Homo sapiens: one gene and its partners. The protein of the gene in region 6 interacts with the protein of the main gene of each other region in a pairwise test. Each region holds a gene or a part of one and is shown on either strand. Other genes may lie near its edges. The genes, in order: PTK6, PLCG2, SH2D1B, TNS3, SHC2, KIT and SHC3.

What was found.
Region 1: the proteins of KIT (region 6) and PTK6 interact in binary tests that used the Homo sapiens proteins (3 or more experiments, as listed by UniProt).
Region 2: the proteins of KIT (region 6) and PLCG2 interact in binary tests that used the Homo sapiens proteins (3 or more experiments, as listed by UniProt).
Region 3: the proteins of KIT (region 6) and SH2D1B interact in binary tests that used the Homo sapiens proteins (3 or more experiments, as listed by UniProt).
Region 4: the proteins of KIT (region 6) and TNS3 interact in binary tests that used the Homo sapiens proteins (3 or more experiments, as listed by UniProt).
Region 5: the proteins of KIT (region 6) and SHC2 interact in binary tests that used the Homo sapiens proteins (3 or more experiments, as listed by UniProt).
Region 7: the proteins of KIT (region 6) and SHC3 interact in binary tests that used the Homo sapiens proteins (3 or more experiments, as listed by UniProt).

The regions. Positions count from the first base shown.
Region 1 is NC_000020.11:63,530,939-63,534,376, reverse strand, and holds part of PTK6 (protein-tyrosine kinase 6), read left to right. Parts: intron 1-61; coding exon 62-225; intron 226-672; coding exon 673-826; intron 827-1,689; coding exon 1,690-1,851; intron 1,852-3,438. UniProt on the Homo sapiens protein: Non-receptor tyrosine-protein kinase implicated in the regulation of a variety of signaling pathways that control the differentiation and maintenance of normal epithelia, as well as tumor growth.
Region 2 is NC_000016.10:81,911,791-81,915,290, reverse strand, and holds part of PLCG2 (1-phosphatidylinositol 4,5-bisphosphate phosphodiesterase gamma-2), read right to left. Parts: intron 2,695-3,500; coding exon 2,575-2,694; intron 1-2,574. UniProt on the Homo sapiens protein: The production of the second messenger molecules diacylglycerol (DAG) and inositol 1,4,5-trisphosphate (IP3) is mediated by activated phosphatidylinositol-specific phospholipase C enzymes. It is a crucial enzyme in transmembrane signaling.
Region 3 is NC_000001.11:162,398,637-162,402,136, reverse strand, and holds part of SH2D1B (SH2 domain-containing protein 1B), read left to right. Parts: intron 1-3,049; coding exon 3,050-3,214; intron 3,215-3,500. UniProt on the Homo sapiens protein: Cytoplasmic adapter regulating receptors of the signaling lymphocytic activation molecule (SLAM) family such as CD84, SLAMF1, LY9 and CD244. In SLAM signaling seems to cooperate with SH2D1A/SAP.
Region 4 is NC_000007.14:47,274,654-47,278,111, forward strand, and holds the end of TNS3 (tensin-3), read right to left. Parts: coding exon 3,423-3,458; 3' UTR 501-3,422; downstream 1-500. UniProt on the Homo sapiens protein: May act as a protein phosphatase and/or a lipid phosphatase. Involved in the dissociation of the integrin-tensin-actin complex. EGF activates TNS4 and down-regulates TNS3 which results in capping the tail of ITGB1.
Region 5 is NC_000019.10:433,534-437,033, forward strand, and holds part of SHC2 (SHC-transforming protein 2), read right to left. Parts: intron 3,151-3,500; coding exon 3,097-3,150; intron 2,899-3,096; coding exon 2,847-2,898; intron 2,759-2,846; coding exon 2,632-2,758; intron 1,333-2,631; coding exon 1,176-1,332; intron 1-1,175. UniProt on the Homo sapiens protein: Signaling adapter that couples activated growth factor receptors to signaling pathway in neurons. Involved in the signal transduction pathways of neurotrophin-activated Trk receptors in cortical neurons.
Region 6 is NC_000004.12:54,737,957-54,741,215, reverse strand, and holds the end of KIT (mast/stem cell growth factor receptor Kit isoform 1 precursor), read right to left. Parts: intron 2,788-3,259; coding exon 2,659-2,787; 3' UTR 501-2,658; downstream 1-500. UniProt on the Homo sapiens protein: Tyrosine-protein kinase that acts as a cell-surface receptor for the cytokine KITLG/SCF and plays an essential role in the regulation of cell survival and proliferation, hematopoiesis, stem cell maintenance, gametogenesis, mast cell development, migration and function, and in melanogenesis.
Region 7 is NC_000009.12:89,172,319-89,175,818, forward strand, and holds part of SHC3 (SHC-transforming protein 3), read right to left. Parts: intron 1-3,500. UniProt on the Homo sapiens protein: Signaling adapter that couples activated growth factor receptors to signaling pathway in neurons. Involved in the signal transduction pathways of neurotrophin-activated Trk receptors in cortical neurons.

The DNA of each region.
Region 1 (3,438 bases), on a different chromosome or scaffold from region 6:
CTGGGGACGCAGGGAGGCGTCGGAGTTGGGGTGGCCACACAGCTCACGCTCTCCCTCCCAGTGCGGGACACGCAGGCTGTGCGGCACTACAAGATCTGGCGGCGTGCCGGGGGCCGGCTGCACCTGAACGAGGCGGTGTCCTTCCTCAGCCTGCCCGAGCTTGTGAACTACCACAGGGCCCAGAGCCTGTCCCACGGCCTGCGGCTGGCCGCGCCCTGCCGGAAGGTAGCCGCTCCGCCCTGACTTGGTCACGCGGGGTCAGGCTGGGGGGTCACAGGCTGGCATTTCCTACTGGGAGAGGTTGGCCGGGCAGCATGGGAGGGGTCCTGACTCACTGACCTGGGGCCCACTGGAGGGAAGCCCATGGTTCTGCAGAGCACAGGTGTTTGCCTGAGTTGGGGGTGGGGCCAGGAGACCATCCCCGGGCCTGGCCACTCTCGGAGAGGCCAGCGGCACTCTGCAGGGTCCTGGCTCCGGTCTGTCTGGGTGTTTCATGCTGGGCTGGGGGCAGCCCCCAGGAGAGTCCACCCTTGTGTCAGACACTCAGAAACCCCCAACCCAGGCTGATCGTGGCCCTAAATCTGAGGCTAAATCCAGGCTCCCTGTGCTGGCTTCAGACTGGCACTTCCTGAAGGATGAGCCCCTGCCCTGTGTCCCCGACTCTTCCTCCAGCACGAGCCTGAGCCCCTGCCCCATTGGGATGACTGGGAGAGGCCGAGGGAGGAGTTCACGCTCTGCAGGAAGCTGGGGTCCGGCTACTTTGGGGAGGTCTTCGAGGGGCTCTGGAAAGACCGGGTCCAGGTGGCCATTAAGGTGATTTCTCGAGGTGAGTGGGCCCCGATCAGGGCTCTGTGTGGCCCCGTGCCTGCCCTGGGCCACCCTCCCACCCCGCCAACAGGGACCTCTGGCCTCGAGCCCCAAGCAGCACCCACAGCGTCCATGCGAGAGTGGTTCCCTTTCAATTGCACCTATGTTTTTACCTAAATACATTTATTATAAAAGAAAATTTTAGGCCGGGCACGGTGGCTCACATCTGTAATCCCCACACTTTGGGAAGCCAAGGTGGGCGGATCACGAGGTCAGGAGTTTGAGACCAGCCTGGCCAACATGGGGAAACCACGTCTCTACTAAAAATACAAAAATTAGCCGAGTGTGGAGGCATGTGCCTGTAGTCCCAGCTACTCGGGAGGCTGAGGCAGGAGAATCGCTTCAACCCAGGAGGCGGAGATTGCAGTGAGCTGAGATCGCGCCATTGCACTCCAGCCTGGGCGACAGAGCAAGACCCCGTCTTGGGAAAAAAAAAAAAGAAAGAAAGAAAGAAAATTTAAAATCCTTGACGTAATGGAAAGCCATTAAAATAGATCACTGGAAATGGGTAAAACTTCCCTGGAACCCGTCTGGGCCCCAGCAGAGGTCTGGCCTCTATGTCAGAGGTCTGGGCCGGGCACAGGAAGAAATCGGGTGGCCACCACAGCCCCGTGGGTACGCCAGGCTGGGGCCCTGTGGGGCCGGCTGCATCTGCCATTTCGTGGCCTCGGGAGCCAGGTGCCCTGTCGGGGGCAGGAGGTCTGTGTGTCCTGCACAGCTGCTGGGTGTGATGGCTGCTGTGTGTGGGGGCAGGGCCTTGGCCTCTTCCTTGGGGCCTGGGGGGTCAGGGGCTGCATCCACCGAGGCCACCCGTCCCCGCAGACAACCTCCTGCACCAGCAGATGCTGCAGTCGGAGATCCAGGCCATGAAGAAGCTGCGGCACAAACACATCCTGGCGCTGTACGCCGTGGTGTCCGTGGGGGACCCCGTGTACATCATCACGGAGCTCATGGCCAAGGGCAGCCTGCTGGAGCTGCTCCGCGGTGAGTGGCATGGGCCGGGGCTCTTGCTGGAGGCAGCGGGGGCACGTGAGGAAATAAAGTGCACACCCCCCCCCCACGTCTACACACACACACACGTAGACACACAGACACACAGACACACACATGCACACACAGACACAGACACAGACACACAGAGACACACACGCACAGACACACATGCACACACACATGCACACAGACATACACATGCACACACAGACACACACACAAGACACATCACATGACACACACAGACATACACATAGACACAGACACACACACAGAGACACACAAAACAGATCACACGGACACACACAGACACACACACAGATCACACGGACACACACAGACACACACACACACAGACACACACTGATCCAGACACACACACAGACACACACAGATCACATTGGCTCAAAGACTTCATCCTCTCTAAGTTCCATTATTTCCTTTCTCACCAAAACCAAAGACAATCGCTGCCAGGGAATGGAGATGCCCGTGCGTGAAGGCGCAGTTTGGATTCCGATGTTAGAATGGGAGGGAACGTTGTGGTATAGGAAAAATGCCGTGTGTGTCTGAGGAGAGCTACACTGAGGCACCACGCACGTTTGCGCTCTGAGCGAAAGGCTCCGTACCCCTCGCCCTCACACAAAGGGCTTGATCATCTCAGACAGTCCCCACGCCCTTCAGGGTCCTCCGGGAGGGAATGTGGGGTAAAACAGGCACCACCAGGCCGCAAGCCGCTGACAGCCATTCTCCTGTTCGAGTTCCCACTGCCTACATCACGCAGTCATGAGCCTCTTCGCTGGTCCTTCTGCGTCCAGCTCCTCCCGCGTCATCACAAACTTCCAGAAGGGAAATCGCTGGGCTAGACCACTAGGAACTGCTCCTTGGTTCTTTTTTTTTTTTTTGAGACGGAGTCTCACTCTGTCGCCCAGGCTGGAGTGCAATGGCGCAGTCTCGGCTCACTGTAACCTCCACCTCCTGGGTTCAAATGATTCTCCTGCCTCAGCCACCTGAGTAGCTGAGATTACAGGCACCTGTCACCACGCCCAGCTAATTATATATATATATATATATATATATATTTTTTTTTTTTTTTTTTGAGACGGAGTCTGGCTCTGTCGCCCAGGCTGGAGTGCAGTGGCGTGATCTCGGCTCACTGCAAGCTCCGCCTCCCGGGTTCACGCCATTCTCCTGCCTCAGCCTCCCGAGTAGCTGGGACTACAGGCGCCCGCCACCACGCCCGGCTAATTTTTTGTATTTTTAGTAGAGATGGGGTTTCACCGTGTTAGCCAGGATGGTCTCGATCTCCTGACCTCGTGATCCATCCGCCTCAGCCTCTCAAAGTGCTGGGATTACAGGCGTGAGCCACCACGCCCAGCTTGCTCCTTGGTTCGTGATAAACAGTTGCCTTCCAGAAGGGCGGTAGCTGGCCTGCAGTTCCAATTTTCAATCAGGCCAGCTGCCCTTTGCCCCGGCCCCTCCTCTGAGCCCGCAGAGCTTGGAGGCAGATGAGACATGGCCCAGCCTCCCCAACCCTTCCCCACCTCAGCTGGCTCAGCTGACCCCAGGCTCTGCTCCACT
Region 2 (3,500 bases), on a different chromosome or scaffold from region 6:
CTGGCACAGGAGAGGCACTTTACAAATATGTAGAGGGCAAGGAGAAGTTGCTGCAGACCTGTGTTCCCCTACTGCCTGGTCCAAATTCCCCATCCGTTTCCCTGGAGAGCTACTCACCCTCCACCACCCTGCCTGACCAATCCCTTTGTAGCACTCATCACAAAATACTACACTGATTTCCTTATGTGCTCAAACCTCCTCAGTGCTTCTCAGTGAAGGACAGTGACGCTTCACCCCATACCCTGACCAGAGAGGGTTTGAAAAAGTGTGTGTCCTGGGGCAGGGATGTTATTTTTGATTGTTACAATGACTTAGGGTCCCAGACAGACATGCAGTGGGTAGAGACCAGGGAAGTTCAACATCCAAATACAACAGGATCAGTCCTCACACCCCAACTCTTTGAGAAACACTGTGTGGACTGAGCTTCCCTGACAGTGGGCCATGGGGTGAGGTGGGGAGCGGCCATCCTTGCTGATTGATTCACTGAGCCAGCATTCACCAACCACCAACTACATCCCAGCCAATGTTACATAAGCAGGAACAGGTCAAAAGCAAGAAACACTTGGAGTAAGGCGATGTCTCTCATCCCTGCCAGACCATTAGCCTGAGAGAGCAAGGACTGGGCTGTTTTTATCACTCCTGCATCTCTGGAGCCCAGCACAGGGCCCGGCACACAGTAGGTGCTCACCAAACATCTATTAACTTCTAAAAAATAAAAACTTCCATTCTCAAGACACCTCCAATCTCATGGGGAAGACAAGCTCACAAACTGAATGGGGCGTGTATGTAAGTCAGGCAATCAACCTGAGGACCCACCCAACCTCTTCATTCACGCGGTCCCATTGAAGTGACCCCAACCCCATCCCCAGATGGCCTGTCAGAATCATGCCACCTGGCTCAGGGAGGGGGCCATCCTTTCTGCCGGACACTGTCCTGGCAGCCCAAGGTACAGCCACCTGAGACAGAAGCTGATGGAGAGTAACGCCAGCATGCACATACAGGTGGCATCCTGACCATCATCAGGTGAGGCCCCGATCCGGTTGTGTCAGAGCTGTCTCACCGCTTGGGCACCTCAGTTTCAGCCAGTTGGGTTTAGTTGCCATCATTTGCACAGGATGACAGCACAGTGGGAGTGCCAACACCCCACCTGGGGCCTGGCACACAGCAGGTTTTCAATCCGTGTGCAGCGGACTGAACACACCTCCTCCCCATCCAGGCTGAGGAGGTACCACTAAGAGGCTTAGGGGAAAGAGCAAAGGGCAGAGGCACCAATGCTGAGAAGCCCAGGTCACCCTCTTGGGAACAGAGAGTACAGAAAAGCCATGCTGGTGGGAGGCTGCTCTCTGGCTGGAGCCAGTACACAGTAGGTCCTCAGTAAACTATAGTGATAATGACCGTCACCACGGTCCCCAGGGAGGTGGCTCAGGCATAGTGGTGCAGGCAAGGAGGAAGGGAAATCCAAACGCCCAGGGGGCAGCCTGGCAGGGTCACCAGGGGATGGGATCAGGGCAGAGGGAATGGGGAGAGGAGTGGACAGGGGCAAACCACACACCCCACAGTAGCTGCCATGCAGCCAGCACCACCGCGCCCATGTGGAAACACAGGCCCAGAGCATCCACTGCCTCCCATTTTTCACAAGAAGCAATCTGAGTTTTTCAGTGAAATTTCTCAGTTTTTCACATCAGTGTACAAAAGACGCCCACAGGCCTCTGGCTGGAGATTTGGCCCCCAGGCCTCTGGCTAGAGACTCTGGAGTGAAGAGCTTAGGCTTTGGAGACGGACAGGCCTGCATCTGAACCTCAAACTCAGTTGACTATGAGGCTGTGTGACTCCAGGCAGGTCACTTAACCTCTCTGGTCCTGTTTCCTCCCTTGCAATAACTAGACCTACCTCTCACAGGCTGTAGCAAAGGATTCAATCAGATGAGGCCTTGAAGGCAGTCCAGTGTCTAGAACACGGTTAGGAACTCAACATATAGCAGACTGTTACCACCGTAAGAACATGCAGGGAAACCCTGGGGCTGGGGAGATGGAGGGACAGTAGGCTACACGGAGTCTGAGTCACTCCTCGGCTCCTTGTCATTAGTGGAAGTGGGAGAATCTGGCGTTTTGGGGTAACATTAGAGAACCACAGGCCTAGAGGTGGTTGGGCAGCAGCTGCAGTTGGGAGGAAACCAGATCTATATCATCACAGGCCTGGGCTGCCTGGGCTGTCTGGGCTCGAATCCCAGCCCCACCACTTAGTGGCTGCATGCTTCAGCAAGTTACTTAATCTTGCTGTGCCTCAGTTTCCTCCTCTGAGAAACACGGATCATGGTCATGTCAACCCCACAGAGTTACTGGAAGCCAAAGTGAGTTACTACAGAACATCCTGCCCTGGAGAACGCAGACTGTGCCTGGCACGCAGGAGCGCACATTCTCGCAGCGGCTTTTGCTGTGGTGGTTGTTGTTGTCGCTGATGCTGGGGGGGCAGGGCACTGCAGGTGAGCCTCCACCTGAAGTTCCCCCTTGTCTCTCCGCATCTGTCCTTGCCAAGCCCCTCTGTAGAGCATGTGCCTCCCACCCTCGCACCCACCTGAAGGTGATGGCATAGGAGTCGCTCCCCTCTCGCTTCCGGATCAGGAAGGCCCCGTCCCGGGGAATCCTCATCAGCATGTCCTCTGCCTCTCCGCGGCTCAGGCTGTCATAGTACCACCTGCGGCACAGGGCCAGGGAAAACGACCAGGTGAGCGGTCTCCAGGCTGTCAGTGGGCCACCCGCAGAGGACAAGATAATGGCACCAGTGACACCTGGAACCTGGCCCTGGAAACGACCATGGAAATCACACAGTGGGCTTCCCCAGACAAAGGCACCTCAGCAAAGAGAATTTGTGAAAAGAATAGTGGAAGACCCCAGGGGTCTGTTTCAAGCCCAAAATAATACATTGGGCCGAGCACAGTGGTTCACACCTGAAATCCCAGCACTTTGGGAGGCTGAGGCAGGAGGATCACTTGGGGTCAGGAGTTTGAGACCAGCCTGGCCAACACAATGAGACCCCCATCTCTATAAAAAATAAAATAGCCTGGGCACAGTGGCTCACGCCTGTAATCCCAGCACTTTGGGAGGCCAAGGCAGGTGGATCGCGAGAAGCCAGGAGTTCAAGACCAGCCTGACCAACATGGCGAAACTCTGTCTCTACTAAAAATACAAAAATTGGGCCAGGCGTGGTGGCTCACGCCTGTAATCCCAGCACTTTGGGAGGTTGAGGCGGGTGGATCATGAGGTCAGGAGATCGAGATCATCCTGGCTAACACGGTGAAACCCTGTCTCTACTAAAAATACAAAAAATTAGCCAGGCATGGTGGCAGGCGCCTGTAGTCCCAGCTACTCAGGAGGCTGAGGCAGGAGAATCACTTGAACCCAGGAGGCAAAGGTTGCAGTGAGCCGAGATCATGCCACTGCACTCTAGCCTAGGCAACAGAATGTGACTCTGTCCCAAAAAAAAAAAAAAAAAAAAAAAAA
Region 3 (3,500 bases), on a different chromosome or scaffold from region 6:
AATTAGAAGACTCAACAATGATGCAAGATGGAGCTAGAAAGGGACGGTGGAAAGAGGTCAGAGTGTTTAGGGAGTCAAGTGTGCCCAATAGTTGTACGAAAATATAGTGGGAAGCATCAGATAGCTGAAAGTCTTAGGGTTTGTTTAATTTTTCTGGTTTACTGAGAGCTAAGCAGAAAAACATTTTGCTTCTTTTAAATTTAGTTCTCTGGCTTAAGAAGTAGAGTATAATAAACATAACTGCTAACAGAGAATCCTAAAATAATCTTTCTCAAACACTTACATATAAGGTTAAGGAGACTACAGATTTCTAAGAATCTTCAGTATATTAATGTTTACTCTGAATATCTGAAAGAGACTAGAATATAAAATGATCCCCAAACACCTCACTTATACTATTTTTCTTTTGCTATAGAGGACATTATTGAGGCAGTTGACAAAATTTGAATAAATTCAAATTTTGAATAAGATTAACAAATAGTACTGTATCCAGGTTAATTTCCTGATTTTAATCATTGTAGTATGGTTATGTAATATCCTTACTTTTGAAGAAATACTGAAGTATTTAAAGGGATATTATGTCTGCAAATTAACTTTGAAAATAGCTTATATATATGTGTATATATACATGCACAATATATGTGTATATATTTGGAAAGAGAATAAAAAGCAAATATAATAAAATGTTAACATTGGGGTGTGGGTGAAATATATGGTAATTTTTAAAAATTATTTTTGCAACTTTGCTATGTCTGAAATAATTTCAAGATAAAATGTCTTATAAAAAGCAACTTATTTTAAGACTTTTTTTTCTGTTTATTCTTTGGGAAATTCTGGATAATTCCTCAGTACCCTGTTTTGTCTCTTGTGTGGACAAAATAGAGGGAGACATCCAAATCATTTGTAACTCAGACACAAAGAGGCGTTTCACTGGGGAGCAGCTTTGAGCTTAGAAGCCTGCAGTGATGCCTTTTGTTGAAATGACTGCATTAAAGGAACCTCCTTGCAGATGACTTTGATGTCAGCCTGTACCTCTAATACAGAGGTTAATCAGGCGCATATCAGAAAACCTTCTGATCACCAACCCCTTTCTCTAGTCTGACTTGGTGGCCATATGAAAACCACAGTGACGATCAAGAAAACCAAATACACAAAAGTAGAGGAAGAAAATTCATGTGTGTGTGGGTGTGTAAGACAGAGTCTTGCTGTCACCCAGACTGGAGTGCAGTGGCGTGATCTCGGCTCACTGCAACTTCCGCGTCCTGGTTCAAGCGATTCTCCTGGCTCAACCTCCCGAGTAGCTGGGATTACAGGCGTCTGCTACCATGCCCAGCTAATTTTTTGTATTTTTAGTAGAGACGGAGTTTTGCCATGTTGACCAGGCTGGTCTCAAACTCCTGACCTCAAGTGATCCACCCACCTTGGCCTCCCAAAGGGCTGGGATTACAGGCATGAGCCACTGAGCCTAGCCAGAAAATTCTTTTCATTTTAAAATTATTTCTAAAAGGTTATATTAGAAAATAGTGCTTGGTGGGCCAGGCATGGTGGCTCCCGCCTGTAATCCCAGTACTTTGGGAGGCTGAGGCAGGCAGATCATGAGGTCAGGAGATCGAGACCATCCTGGCTAACACAGTGAAACCCCATCTCTACTAAAAATACAAAAAAAAAAAAAAAAAAAATTAGCCAGGTATGGTGATGGTGCTTGTAATCCCGGCTACTTGGGAGGCTGAGGCAGGAGAATGGCATGAACCCGGGAGGCGGAACTTGCAGTGAGCTGAGATCACACCACTGCACTCCAGCCTGGGCCACAGAGTGAGACTCCGTCTCAAAAAAAAAAAAAAAAAAAAAAAGTACGTGGTGTATAGCTGGTAAACAGAAAACATCTATTTACAACTTAACTGAGTTGTGTTGCCATTCCCACTTTCTATTTACATTGGGACTTTTTTGGTTTTGTTTTGCCCACATGGAGATTGTGAATTCATCAAGTATACAAATTGTGTATTTTAAATTCATAAAGTATACAAAATGCATATTTTAAAGACATGGAATCAACCTAAATGCCCATCAGTGATAGACTGGATAAATAAAATGTGGTACATATACACCATGGAATACTAAGCAGCCTAACTGTTCTCCAAATTTGAAAAACCAAATCAGAGGCTGGTGGTTCACCTTTTAAAGCCAATAAAGAGAACCAGCCCCAGCTTGAGATGGAGAGGATCGAAATTAGAGTTGGAAGCATTTATGGTAAAATCTCTCACATGGGGATCAGAAAGGAGCTTAGGTCAAAAAAGAATGAAATCATGTCCTTTGCAGGGACATGGATGGAGCTGGAGGCCATTATGTTTAGCAAACTAATGCAGGAACAGAAAACCAAATACTGCATGTTCTCACTTGTAAGTGGGAGCTGAATGATAAGAACACATGGACACACAGAGGAGAACAACACACACAGGGGCCTGTTGGAGGGCTCAGGGTGGGAGGAGGGAGAGGATCAGGAAGAATAGCTAGTGAATGCTGGGCTTGATACCTGGGTGATGGGATGGTCTGTGCAGCAAACCACTACGGCACACGTTTACCTATGTAACAAACCTGTACATCCTGCACATGTACCCCTGAACTTAAAATAACAGTTGGAATTTTTTTTAATTGCATTTTTGCATTCCCATCAGAAGTCCACTTCCGATAGTCCCTTAAGATAGCAAAGCCCGCCTGTAGGTACAGACGTAAGCCCTTACAGGGGTACCCTTCACAGTGTATCTGCGAGAACTGCCCCAGGTAAACTTCCCAAGGATGGGGTTCACTTGATACTATGGACTGCGCTGGGATCCCTTGATTGCAAATCCTCTTTACTCAGAGTGGCTCAAGTCAGAGGTTGGTCTTAGAAATGAGAGTTTCTGTGAACTGGGAGTGGTGTGAGCTCCAGCCACTTGTTTTCAGTTTTTCAGCTCATAGAAGGGCAGCCCTGAAAACCCACTGCTTTGAGAAGTGTCACATTTCACACGCAATTGCATGATAATGAGTGATTTCCTTTCTTGTATTTTTGCAGACTGCAGAAGGTTCTCCAAAACAGGTCTTTCCAAGCCTAAAGGAACTGATCTCCAAATTTGAAAAACCAAATCAGGGGATGGTGGTTCACCTTTTAAAGCCAATAAAGAGAACCAGCCCCAGCTTGAGATGGAGAGGATTGAAATTAGAGTTGGAAACATTTGTGGTAAAATCTCTCACGTGGGGGTCAGAAAGCAATCTTAATCCTATTTCCACCAATGCCTTACTTTGTAAACTCAATACAGACAAATGCTCTTTTCTGTGACATTATCTCTAAAAAGCTTCATCCTACTAAGAGCAATTTCCATTTTGTTGAGAAGTGCTGTCTTTTAGTCCCTGAGGGCCAAGACAGAGAGCTTGCTGCGTTTGCAGCCAGGATAGCAAGAGTGGTTCCTGGGCAGACAGCTGACTTCAAATTCATTCTGTGACCTTGTGCAGACGATTCAAGTTTG
Region 4 (3,458 bases), on a different chromosome or scaffold from region 6:
CAGCATCTGTTGATGTGTAAGTGAATCCACCAGTCTCAATATTCACTTTTAGTGCCCACTTCAATAGACACTGGGAGGTCCTTCAGGAGCTGGCCCACTTCAGGGGTGTGTTTCTGCAGCCAGTGTGTGTGTAGGGGTATTCATAGCAACATCGAAAACATGTCAGGACCCATTATCAACACTGCATTGTGGTTAATCTTCAAAGATCTTTGAATATAACATTTCAAAGGTCTCTGGGCAGAAATCTTAATATATTCCTGACAGCAAAACATTTGTGATTTTATAACTGAATCCACTGATTTGTAAACACACAGACACACATTCATGAACGAGCACACACGCAGACGCACAGACACATGTGGACAAAGATACATCTGTGCAAGCACATGCACACATTTGCAGAGACACATACACAAAAGTGCACACATGCACACGCATACACACATGTGCAAACACACACAAACATACTTCAGGGTACACAAATACCGTCTCACGGAGGCTTACCAAGTTCATAATTTTATTATACTCTGAATAGAGATGATATTTAAGGAGCAGAGAAAATGACTATACAAAAGATTTATAGAACATTCATTTACATACTGGATATATTCTTTACAGTATCAGAAAAGTAAAAATATGCACTAACAAGGCAGAGAAGACGTTACAAGGTATTTGATGCTGAGAATAAATGCACAGTGACTTTTAACATGGCTATAGCTTAACACTGGAGGAATACAACAATACGTTCTTTTACTGAGTAGTTAGTAGGACCCTGGCTATAACATGCGTTGGGCACAGTTCGTGAACTCTCCGCATTTACTCCCCAGGGCAGTACGTGCCTGTCCAGCGGGAGCCCTGGAGACAAAATGCCTGGAAACGTTCCTTTTCCTGTGGCCCTAGAGCCGGTGTCCACGGTGGGGGCTCTCTCACGGTTTCTGAGCCCACAGTACAATCTGTGATGACACACAGCTTGTTCTGTTTAATGCACATGTAACACAAAAGGAAGAAAGAAACTTCCTATACCAGCTCTTCAGAAATCGTGGAAACTTGCTTCCTTTGGTTCCTCAGAGGGAGCTATCTGCTTGGAGCAAATTCCCCGATGCCCTTGACCACGTTTACCTTGTGTAAAAATCACACCTGGCCAATGAGTTCAAAAAGCACGTTTGCAGGGCTTCCTGAATGCCGTCGAGGCATGGCTTCATGAGGGCCATCGCGGGCACCCCGATGTCTCTGTGATTCCCTGGCAGGCTGCGTTTCTCAATACTGAGACCCTAGTTTGCTCTGACTTCTAAATGAGCTCTCTCATCCTTCATCAGAAGGATAAGGAACCTGGCCTGCACTCTTTGGGTTAAACATGGGTAGAGACCGTCTCAGGATGAGGACCTCTTGGGGAAAGTACAAACCTCTGCTCCCTGTGGCCACATTCCTGCAGTGGATGAAAAACCGAGATGCTAGAGGCCTCTGCTAAAGACATCAGGGTCAACACATGAGGATCTGCTGAAAATGCCAGCACCTCCTGACAGTCATGCCACCGCAAGTTAGAGAAGGAGGTCCACAACGACCAAGGCAAACATTTGGCACAGAAATGAGGCACTTGGTTTGGTGCATCAATAGGAGCTAAAAAGTGGAATGGTCCACCTGCTTTCACACACGCATACACGCACGCATGCACACACGCACACACACACAACACCCACTGTGATTTGGCTGCTTCCAACTCTGCCTGTTTCTAAGTTTTCCTCGGCCCCTCACTTTAAAGCAGAGTTCACAAAGCACATTCCCAAACCCCAGCTCCCTGACAGGAGCTTGTGACACCAGTGTGGCCTAAGAATGGGGGATTTGACTTTTGAAAGCAGAGGAGGGAATTTCGGGCTGGATCGCAATCAGGACAGTCAGCATGCCTGCAGAGCACCTAGGCTGTGAGAGGATGGGGCCAAGGCCTTATTCTGATGTGGCCCAGCTCCATCTTTCACTCTGGGGATGTTCCAGGGTCACAAATTCCCCCAAACCTTTGACCACGAACAGATTCAAGCAGGAAAACCAGGGCATTGGAATGTTGAAATAAGCCTGAAATACACTTGATTCAGTGGCTTAGATGATGGCAAACAGTGGCACTCAAAAACAGCTTGTCAGTACCGGGGTTTCTTCTCTTTTTCCTCATCCTCCCTTCTGCTCACACATGCCACAACCACACATGGTCCCCAGCAGGAACCCCAAGGTGGCAAGGAGCAGCACAAAGAGGGCTGATAAATGCAGGCGAACTTCAGGTCGTGCAGCTTCAGGCCTGAAGATGATCGAAAAGCCCATGTGGGGGATGCTGAGCTTAAATCCAGGAGTTTTCCATCCCTCCTGGACTCTCTCCATCAGAAAAGAAGTCATCCACAATCGGGGAAAAACATTCCAATGAGTAAAACATCAGGGTAGGTTGCTTGAGGCAAAGCCACCTTTGGGCGGCACCGCATATGGGAGACCCACAGTCCACTGCACACTCTTTCAGTGGCCAGGGGCCTGCGGTGCATCCTACATAGGGACAAGCCTCACAAAATCACAGCTTGGCAGGCTGCAGCATTTGACACTGGTACAGTATAGCAATGGCAAATTATCATAAATAATTTGGCATAAGTAAAATATAAATTACATAGAAATAATATTTTTGTTCCTTCTTCTCATTTCTCCTCTCGGTCCTCACAGGCTCTCCCCAGCCCAGCTCGCCCAGCTCGCCCAGCTCGCCCAGCTCACCACAGGTGAGCAGGAGGCACAGAGCACTCACCATGGTGGGGTGGCATGGGGTCTCCAACGTGGCCAATTCTTCCCACCACCCCCATCCTCACAGCCCATCGCAAAGGCCCCTCGTTGTAGGCCCTGCTGTGTTCCAGAAGGGCCTGACTTGCACAAACCTTCGTCAAACATACGCCCCCTTCTCAGTTTCGTTAGCATCTCCATCTTGGGAAGACCGAGGTGAGGGAAACCCCCGGCCTCGGGTGCAGCTGGACAGAAGCGCCCATGCGGACGGGCGAAGCATGGCAGTCACTCGGCACCTCTGCCTCAAGGGCTGGGGATTCCTCATCCCCCGGAATGCTAGTGTGCCAGGGACATGGGGACCACCTCGTGTTCTGTGCTGTTTCCTTGCATGTCCCTTTCCCATGGGGACCCTAGGGGGTGGGGTGCACCCATGCCCAGCTTCTTCTACCCAAAAAGCATGTGGCTACAGAGATGTGTCAGATAAGTCACTTTCAGGAAAGGCCAATTCACGGTGATGTTGTTTGTTCTTGTTTTTGCAGAGCTGGAAGATCCTCTTTCCCCTCATGGGCCTGGAATGTCAGGTTTACTAGTTTGGTAAAAAGTGGGGGCCCCACCCTCACCCAACGGCTGTCTCCAGGGCTTCGAGAGGCATCGGTGGGTCCAGGGAGGGAGGGGAGTTCTCAGACCTTCTTTGGGGAACCAATCATGACCTTTGA
Region 5 (3,500 bases), on a different chromosome or scaffold from region 6:
GAGTGAGAGTTAGAGGAGGCCGGGCAGATGGCGCTTCATCGTGAGTGAGATAGTGAGTGAGAGATAGAGGAGGCCGGGCAGATAGATGGCGCTTCATCGTGAGTGAGATAGTGAGTGAGAGATAGAGGAGGCCGGGCAGATAGATGGCGCTTCATCGTGAGTGAGATCGTGAGTGAGAGTTAGAGGAGGCCGGGCAGATAGATGGCGCTTCATCGTGAGTGAGATCGTGAGTGAGAGTTAGAGGAGGCCGGGCAGATAGATGGCGCTTCATCGTGAGTGAGATCGTGAGTGAGAGTTAGAGGAGGCGGGGCAGATAGATGGCGCTTCATCGTGAGTGAGATCGTGAGTGAGAGATAGAGGAGGCGGGGCAGATAGATGGCGCTTCATCGTGAGTGAGATCGTGAGTGAGAGATAGAGGAGGCCGGGCAGATAGATGGCGCTTCATCGTGAGTGAGATCGTGAGTGAGAGATAGAGGAGGCCGGGCAGATAGATGGCGCTTCATCGTGAGTGAGATCGTGAGTGAGAGTTAGAGGAGGCCGGGCAGATAGATGGCGCTTCATCGTGAGTGAGATCGTGAGTGAGAGTTAGAGGAGGCCGGGCAGATGGCGCTTCATCGTGAGTGAGATAGTGAGTGAGAGATAGAGGAGGCCGGGCAGATACACGGCGCCCCATTGTGAGCCTGTGATTGAGTGAGTGAGTGAGATCCTGAGTGAGATCATGAGTGAGTGAGATCATGAGTGAGATCATGAGTGAGTGAGATCATGAGTGAGTGAGATCGTGACTGAGATCATGAGTCTGTGAGTGAGATCATGAGTGAGTGAGATCATGAGATCGTGAGTGAGATGATGAGTCTGAGTGAGATCGTGAGTCTGTGAGTGAGATAGTGAGTGAGACTGAGTGAGATCATGAGTCTGTGAGATAGTGAGCAAGTGAGTGAGATCGTGAGTCTGTGAGTGAGTGAAATCATGAGTGAGATCGTGAGCCTGTGAGATTGTGAGTGAGATTGTGAGTCTGTGAGTAAGTGAAATCATGAGTGAGTGAGTGAGTGAGTCTGAGTGAGAGACCCTCCTCTAGGATCGAGGAGAACAGGAGCAGAAAGAAGAGCTGGAGGTAGGTCCAGGGAACCAGCAGCTGGGGCATCCCTGTCCCCATCCCCCCGAGGGCAGAGGCTGACCTGGTCGAGGGCCGTGAGGGCGCAGGGCTGTGTCAGGGCCAGCCTGGAGTCCACTAGCCCGCCCAGCGGCGGCTCCTTCCCCGGGATGCTGTTGTAGTAATTGTGCTCCAAAGAGTCCTCCTCGTCCCCCCAGGCCGACTCCTCCGGCCCTGCCAGCCTGGGGGACAGACAACAACGGCCATGGCACAGGCAGGGCCCAAGGGGGCTAAAGCCTTACGGCTTGAGCTTCTGGGGGAGCAGGAAATATCTGAGTTCGAATCCCAGCCCCCCACCTGTCACTGAGGGTTCCTACCGGGAAACGCTTCTAGAGCCAGTGACCAGGCCCACTACTTCCTCATCTATAAAATGGAATGTTGCACACATTTCCGAGCTGTAGCACAAAAGGCAGGTCGTTGGCAAACCCAGTCTCCACTCCTTTCTGCCCACCTCCGGCCCCGCCCGGCAGCAGAGGGCATGAGCCAAGTTTATACCCAGAACCAGGACATCACCGGTCAGGGTGGCAACTCTCTGGGATCAAAGCGCCCCCGCCCTCTGGCCCCGATGGCACTGGCAGGAATTGATCCTGCAGGTGCTCCTCAGCAAGCACGGCCCCGAGAGCCAGAGGGGTGCACCCCACCTGGCCCACAGTCGCTGCTGGGATAAATTATGAAGCAGCCTACGGAAGGCAGAGGCAGCTCTGGAGGCAGGCGAGGAGCCCGTCTCAGCTTCGGAGCGTGCTGAGCAACGTGCATCAAGCACGCTGTCCCCGTGCACAAAGGGGTGAGTGTGAGCAGGCGTGCGATGCCGCCTCCCTCGTGACCAGCAGGCTGGGAGCTCATGCACCTGCACCTGCCCTCCCACCATTGGAGGAAGCTGACTTTCTAATGATGAATAGAGACTTAAATAGCTCCTTCTCCAAGGCCAGCTGGCAAACCCCAGCCCAGGGCCAAATCCAGCTCACCGCCTAGATCTGTGTGGCCCACGAGCTAAGAATGGGCTTTCAATCTTTAAATTATCAAAGTTAAGTGTTTGAGAAAACATCTAGAGAATCATATTTTGCAACACGTGGCATTCACACTTCAATGTCTATAAAAAACGTGTTACCAGCACACAGACACGTCCCCCCCTTTACACATGTTCTGCGGTGAGACGGAGGCCGTTTTCTGCCCATTGCGGGAGCCGGCCGCGCGTCTGGAGGAGGGATATTGGTTGTAGCAGCAGGGCTGACAGCCTCAGGCACACCGGGGAGTCAGCTTGCTTAGTCCTCCCCAATCCTGGGGGGCAGGCGGGGATGCGTTTACTCGGGTGTTAACAGCCGAGGAAACAGGATCCTCTGGCTGAGCCATATTCTCACGGGACAGGGAGGGAGGGACAAGGGCAGGACGGAGGCTGAGGCCTGCAGGAGGTGGAGCAGGCTCTGCACCTGGGCAGGTCACTGGGGGTGTCCCCAGGGCACGGGGGAGGCAGCTCTGGTTACCTTTCTGGGGGCAGCGCCACCTTGGGCGGGCTGTGCAGGTACTGCTTGAAGCGCAGCTCGAAAGCTTGGCCCACGGTGCTGATGATGCTCTGTGCCAGGCCCTCACAGCACTCCAGGATGTGGCAGGCTGCGGGCACGTTGGTCATGCAGCCTCCGAGCCACACGGCCGTGCCCCCCAGCCACAGGACCCCCACCGGCCTCCCCGGGGGCCTCACCTCTCTGGTTGATGGGGTCCTTGGCGACGTAGGCCACGTAATCCGTCATGTCCTGGGGGCGGGGAGGGGCCAGCTGGACCTGCCTGGGCCCCCCACCGGGATTCCCAGCTGCCCACCCCAGCAATGCAGAGAGATGGGGCAGTGGATGTGGGCACAGGGTACGTTAGGCGGGCTCTGGGGAAGGATGAGAGGGTCTCGCGGCCGGAGGGGGGCGGCAGGGCTGCAGGTCCACCCCCATCCCTGGCCTCACCGTGTCTCCGCCTGACGCGAAGGAGATGGACGGCATGTGGTGGTTGGCGATGACCTGTGGCGGCAGGAGGCACACGCGGTCATGGGGGCCCCGCTTCGAGGGCAGGGGGCCCGGCAGATGGACCAGGACCACAGCGAAGAGTGGGGCAGGGGCAGGGATGTGGGGATGGAGACGTCTCCTGGACAGGCACCCACTGCAGCCGGGTCCTGGGTCAGCCTGGACGACCGAGGCTGGGATGTGGAGTCCCCAGCAAGGAAGGGACTAGGGCCCTAAGGGATGTGTGGGGTCCGCAGGAGGTCACACGGGAATGTGTGTGAGAGGACAAACCTCCCCCACTGTAACACTTCACACATGTACCTGCCCAGACGCTCACACACACACACCCCAAGCCCCACACACATGCA
Region 6 (3,259 bases):
ACAGGTCACTTTTCACCCCTTCCCTTTCCTTTCAGGAGACATTTCTGCAGGTGTAGATGTCACGTCAATAAAGACAGTCATGACTGAGGGTGTGTGGGTGCCTCATTCTTAATAAGATTATGTGATTCAGGGTGCTTCCTTTTGTTTCAAGCTGAAGAACTCTCAGCCTCTGTTTGGGTTCCAGTGGTCTGGACGGTACCAATTGGGCATGCATAATGTTTCACCCACATGACAGCACCCAGCTCATACATACTAAGCACCTTCTCTGTATCTATTTTTCAATTTAAATAGAGACCTCAGGTTGTAAGACTAAAATGAGAAAATATCACACGTATGAAAATTCTTAATATCTGTTGAATCTCGAAGCATGTAAATCCTAGCGTGATCTGATAGCCCTGCACATATTTTATGAAAACTGCGTACAAAACTTTGTCAGGATGATTGCACTTTAATGCTTTAAAGTTTAATCTCAACGAATCTCAACAATCAAATGACTCCACTTGATTTATATATGTACATTTTATTAGAATTCTTCAGAACTGTCAACAATTGGACAACATACAGGAATAAAACACGTGGAACACCAACATCCTTTAAACTTACGCCGCTTATGTATTTACACATAAAGTTACTGTATATATAAAAAATATTTTCAAGGACTCATGGGCTTGGGAATATTCAAAAGACATTATTGCTACATTTCAATATTTACAAAAAAAGCCACAAAATAATTTCAAACATTAAGCCACTGCAAAGAAACATCTGATGTAAGAAAAAATTATAAAAATATAAACTTTCAAGAATATCCAAGACAAAACTCTCAATGAAGTGCCCCTGAAGTACCTAGACATCTATAACTAACAACCACTTTTCTTACTATCATTGAAGTCAATAGAAACACAAAGGAATTTTTCAGACAAAGTATGGCAAACAACAATCTCTTGGGTGACAACACAACCCCAAAATCTGTTAACTTTGGAAAGGTGCGAGAGCATAGAACTCCAGTGCAAATGGTTACTTCCAGATAACGGCCACAGTTCTCTAAATGTAGTCTAAGAAATGTAGAAGGGGGAAACCATAAAGGCAACATACCTGAATCTTTCAAGACAACACACAAACTCTGCCATGTACACATTTGCCTTTTATATTGGGCAGTGAGGAAGGGGAGTTTTTTGTTTTGTTTTGTTTTGTTTTTAAAGAGGTAAACTACAAGAATAATATCCAGGCTACAGTCTAAAGGGTAAAATTTAAATGTTTCAGTGAGACAGTAGCATTATGGAAGGTCTAAGGAACAGGTACAGTAAGATGAGTCTAAATAACAGAGTGCCTTAAGTGCAGGTGAACTGCAAATACATAGGGACTGATGCCTTCCACTTCCTCTGCACCACTATGGAAGCTTCTGGTAAGCTACTCTAGACAGCTATGTGAAAAGAAACAAGAGCAGTACTAATAATGAAAGCCAAGTTACTTTTCAGGTACTAAAGGACCCTCTTGGACTCAGGGCAAAAATACCCCTCCAAATATTTGTCTACACACATACAAACGTACATACACATATATAGATACTGGCCCGGTGTCCAGGACATGCCTGCGAAGGAGGCTAAACCTATACTTTATTTCCTGCTACATAAGAATCCAAACTAAGATGGCAGTGTTTTCCCACTCCTGTGGGAGCCATGCAGTGAATCAGTAACTTTGTCAAACAGCATCAAATCCATTGAGTACAATGCCATTCTGAAGCTGATAGGCTTGTTCCACAGAATCTACAGAATAAGTTCATCAGCTAAAAGAGGAGATTTTGTTCAAACTGTGCTTTGTGGTTATATTGTTTCCTTAAAAAATGGTATTAACTGTTTCCTTCAAACTTATATGGCTCTTAATCTACTTCTATACACAGTGGACATAATGCCAGGGTTGTATACAGAAACGAAACCTTATGGTGTTTTCCCCTCAAATGTATGAACACGGACAATTTATAGATGCGTATATACAAGTGCTGGCTAGGGAGGCCTTCTCTCCAATTCAATGCTCTAATAGCAAACTCTATTTAAAAACCAGGTCGGTAGTATAAAAGCTCATGCAGTGGTCCACAGAAGAGCATCTTTTGTTCACACTTGGGGATCATTTTTTTCATGGCCTATGTCTCATTCCCAGCATGAAATACTAGATTTCTTAAGCCCAGGTGTTCATACTCTGTCCTTTGTTCTAATGATGTTCTGTTTTCCACATAAAGGACTTAGGTTTTCAGCTTCTAATCTTGTATCATCATACTACTATGGATGGTTCTGAAGGCCAACTGTGATTACTACCATTTATTCAGGTAAACTATCAACCATATTTTTGGGCAGAATTGGAGAAGCCTTGGAAAGGACTCTGGCCCCCAGTCCATACCTCCCTCTCTTTTTCCAAATCAGAATGTTTTCTGTTCATGGTAGAAGCTACGTTGCTATTGGGAATATATACAGTTGGAACCTTTGCAATAGGATGGTGGCTGATGACAAAAATCATCGGCCACTAAAGTGTGCTCAGAAAGACAGGATTGCAGTGGGGTGCCCACTATCCTGGAGTTGGATGCAAGTTGAAAGAAAAGAAAATAACCATCATGGAAGCCAAAAGAAGAGATCATTCCTGGAGGGGTGACCCAAACACTGATTCTGCTCAGACATCGTCGTGCACAAGCAGAGGCTGGGAGGAGGAAGCGGTGCTGCCGACAGAATTGATCCGCACAGAATGGTCTACCACGGGCTTCTGTCGGTTGGGGCTGCAGTTTGCTAAGTTGGAGTAAATCTGGAGAAAACAAGCCCATAGTCAATACAGCAGTCCCTACAACGAACATAGCAACAAAAGGCATACTTACAGTGTCAAGATCACAACTAACTGATGGAAACTCTTAAGAGAGAAGTGGTTTCCAAGAACTTTGTGGCCAAAACCCAAGTCATACTGACAAAACAAATATAAGCTTTGTTTTCCCCCTTCATTTTTCCAAGGAAATAACTTTATACAAGAAGTGGGGACAAAACATGCACAAGCTTAGCTCTTCTAAAAGGGCACACCAGGCACCAAGCACTATCTTACCTATTTAAAAGGCTTGTAAATCTCTCCAGCAACTACAACCCAATAACCAATGTAATTTGCTGGGAAACCCACGGCCCTTCCAGGGGTCTCTTGTCAAGAATCAAAGCAACTGGGTGGAAAATGCTGTTCAATTTGAAACATGTTTTGACACCCAGAAGAACAAGCTTTAACCCAAAAATTATCA
Region 7 (3,500 bases), on a different chromosome or scaffold from region 6:
TCCCAGTGGACCCTCAGTGGATCCTTGTCACACTGTTGTTGTTTTGGTTGGGAGGGGAGAGGCAAAATCACAGTGGGGTCAAAATGTTTTGTTTTGTTTTTTAACTCAACAGAAAATGAGTAATTATGAACTTGTAAGACCAAAACCAACTTGTAAGGCATATTGTGCAGCTGCACATCCCCACACCCCATCACACACACACAGACACAGACACACACACACACGAAGACACAGACACACACAGACACACACACACAGACACACACACACACAGACACACACACACACGATGGTCAACATCCACCCACTCAGTAGGCTGTTCCTATGCTCACTGCCTCCCACCTTAAAGATATTATTTTTCCACCACATACTATAGAACTCTTATGATAAATTGCAAAATTGTTTTCTTGTCCTTTACCCAGGAAACACACATAACTGGTCATTTCTTTCCATTGCATCTGAAACCATTTTATTTATGAATTAAATAATTCACTAACTCTACTGCCCTTGGGTATTTTCATTGAACATGCTGGCTCTTCCTTGTTGCTTTCCTCTGAGCCCCACCATGGACTTGGATCCTTGTACTGCAGGGTCTGGCCCTGGCCCCAGTGATCCAGCAGGTGTCCATCAGGTGAGCACACTCCTGATACTGCAGTGTGCTTCCCTGGGCCCGTCTCTTCCAATTACATTAGATGCTGGTGCAAAAAACAATACAGATGCCACCATTTCTGCCTCGGCCAGGCCTCCAACCCATAGAGACCAACCCCAGCACAACCCTGCCTTCAACTTGCTGCAGCCAGGGACAGCCAGGTCCAGAGAGGTGAGCTGACTGCTCTAGCCCCACACTAAGCTGGCGGTGGAGCTGCAGCCCAGGTGTCCTGCCTTTCACCAGTCCAGGACCTTCACCAGGCCAGGTGTCTGCTCTAATGTCCCCTACCCTAAGCCAGGCACTGCAGGCCAGCAGCACCGGCACATCCTGCAGGGCCAGCCTGTTGGCTGGAAAGCCAGTCTTGCAAGTGGGTTCACGTGTTTGCTGCCCAGGCTTTCTGTTCCCAGGACTCTGCTTTAATGATAGTAATCATATATTCCTCAAAACTATGACATATACTCAAAGGTAAGACACCGTGCGGAGGCAGAGAAGCAGCCATCTGTTCTTTATAGGATGGAAGTTTTGTCGTAGCTTATCTTTTTCTTAAACATGAATATAAAAGAAATGACTGAGATAATTGGGTATTTCTAGAAATATGACATTTCCTATTTTCTAACAAGAAAGAAAACAGCCCCCATCCAAAGTCATCACAAGTCATCTACCTGTGGGCTGTGGGGTGTGTGTGTTGTGTGTGTGCAGTGTCTGTATGGTTGTGTGTGGGTGCATGGTGTGTATGTGCATATGTGTGTGTATATGTGAGGTGTGTGTGTGGTTTGTGTATATGTGTGTGGTGTGTGTGTGCCTTTAACACATCTATGTTTGTGTCACATAAAAAGAGACAACTCACTATCCAGATCAAATTAATAACTTTATATATTAATGTCAAAAGAAATTCTTAAACTATTTTTCAAACCATTTAGATATTTACGTGTAAGCCATCCATATCATAAGATTTCGAAAGAATTTTGAGAAAAAAATCAACTTTTTAAAGTTCAACTCCACATCAAAATCAATTTTTCAGTCTAGAGGTAAAATAAAATTCTACAATATTATAGTAGAATTGATATAGTTATTTTAATATAGTTAAAATAACTTTTGTATGATCTTTGCTCACAGTTACCAAAAGAATACAGCTCTGAGAAAATGAAAATTTAAGATATTTTTATACACTTTGTCAAGTGAAAAAAATTAAGAATAAATTTTTGAGTAAATGTAATTTACGAAGACCACCTATAAAAGGCAGTAGAGCATTTACAAATAAAGCAAATGATTTATACCACCCCAAATATCATTAGATGCACAAATGGGAGTAATAAAATAATTTTTAAAGAGTCCTTGTAAAAACAGAGCTTTGTTCCAAAAGGGAAGCATATCAGGAAGGGTCCAGTGTATCAGGAAATAATGCAGTACTTTTCTGATCGTTAAATCTCCTATAAATAGCTCGCCATTTTCACTGTCAGTAAATATACAACACTCCACAAGCTGAAACCTATGTAACTTCGCTGGAGCCTTCACAGGTGTTTATGAATGGCGTAATCTGCTGGCTCACTGAATGCTGACGCTGTTGGAATAGCTCTGAGCAGTGGGCACCTAAAACCATTGCTTTTACATTGGGCCTCCTGATTCTTGCCCTTGGCACTTGGGTCATTTCTAAATATGGTCACTTCTTATCCTTTTGAAGTCTGTGCTGTGATGTGCTCTAAGAAGGAGCCCGTCTTTTGGGGACCACGCTGGGGCCAAAGGCAAACCCGGTGCAGCCCACACAGCATTGCTTCCTGCTCCAGCCTCGCCCCTCCAGCAGGCAGTTTCAGAGCTGAATGTCAAGGCTGTGCTTGTCTTCAGATGGCCCACTGGCTCTTTAAAAACTGAACCCCTGCCTCCTGTCCCCTGCACTGTTCATATTCCTTCCTACAGTTTCCCCACCGTGGATCTGAGGACAGAGAAGGTGGAGGACCAGGATATTGCCTTTTGAACCTGCTAAAGACCAGCAGCCTCCTTGAGTGATTGGGGTCCTACCCAGGCTTGACTTTAGGATAAGATAATTTAAAGGTGGGCAGCACCGTAATCAATACTCATTGGTATTTCTTTTAGGTCCAAATATCAAATACTTTTAAAATGGAAATTTAATGAAAATAGTCATTGTTCTTTGCTGTTGGATTTTTCTTTTCTATCAAGAGCATAGTTCCTTGTTCTTTCTTTTACGTCACCAAAAGAAAAAAGGAAATGTCAAGATACTTAGGGGAGTAAAAAGGTGCTGCCAATGAGGCCCAGCTGAAAAGAATATAAACCTCTAGGCAGAGTAAGCTGCAGCCTTTCTGTGTGCATAGCCCCATTCTGTTATTTAGCAGCAAACTCAATGATGGACCAATTAGACATGCTTTGAGCTTTGAATTCTACTGTTGCTCAGGAACTTCTTCCATGTTTAAATTTTAAGTCCTTCATTAATTCACATTCTAAGCTGTTGCTCAAATAGTTTAATGTTTCCTAGATGATCAAAATTCACCAGACTTCTGTATTTTACAGTCCCTGTTCTCAGATTAAGTTGAAATATTTTTGAATTATAATTCATATGTGCAATATCCTAATATCACCTGTAAGTAGGTATTTCTTTGAGGGGGAAAATCTATAATACAGTATATAAATTTTCCAGGAAACTAGAAAACATTTGGGGGCTTTATTTTTAATTTAGAAAAAAATTATATCAAAGAGAATAATGCATCCTTTCCCAAACCCTAAACCTTTATATTTTACTATTGGTATCTAGTCATATGATAAAGATGGCCCATTTCTATCTACCAGAAATCTTTTAAAGTAAGGATACCGGTAGAACTATTCAAAAATTCTAAATAAC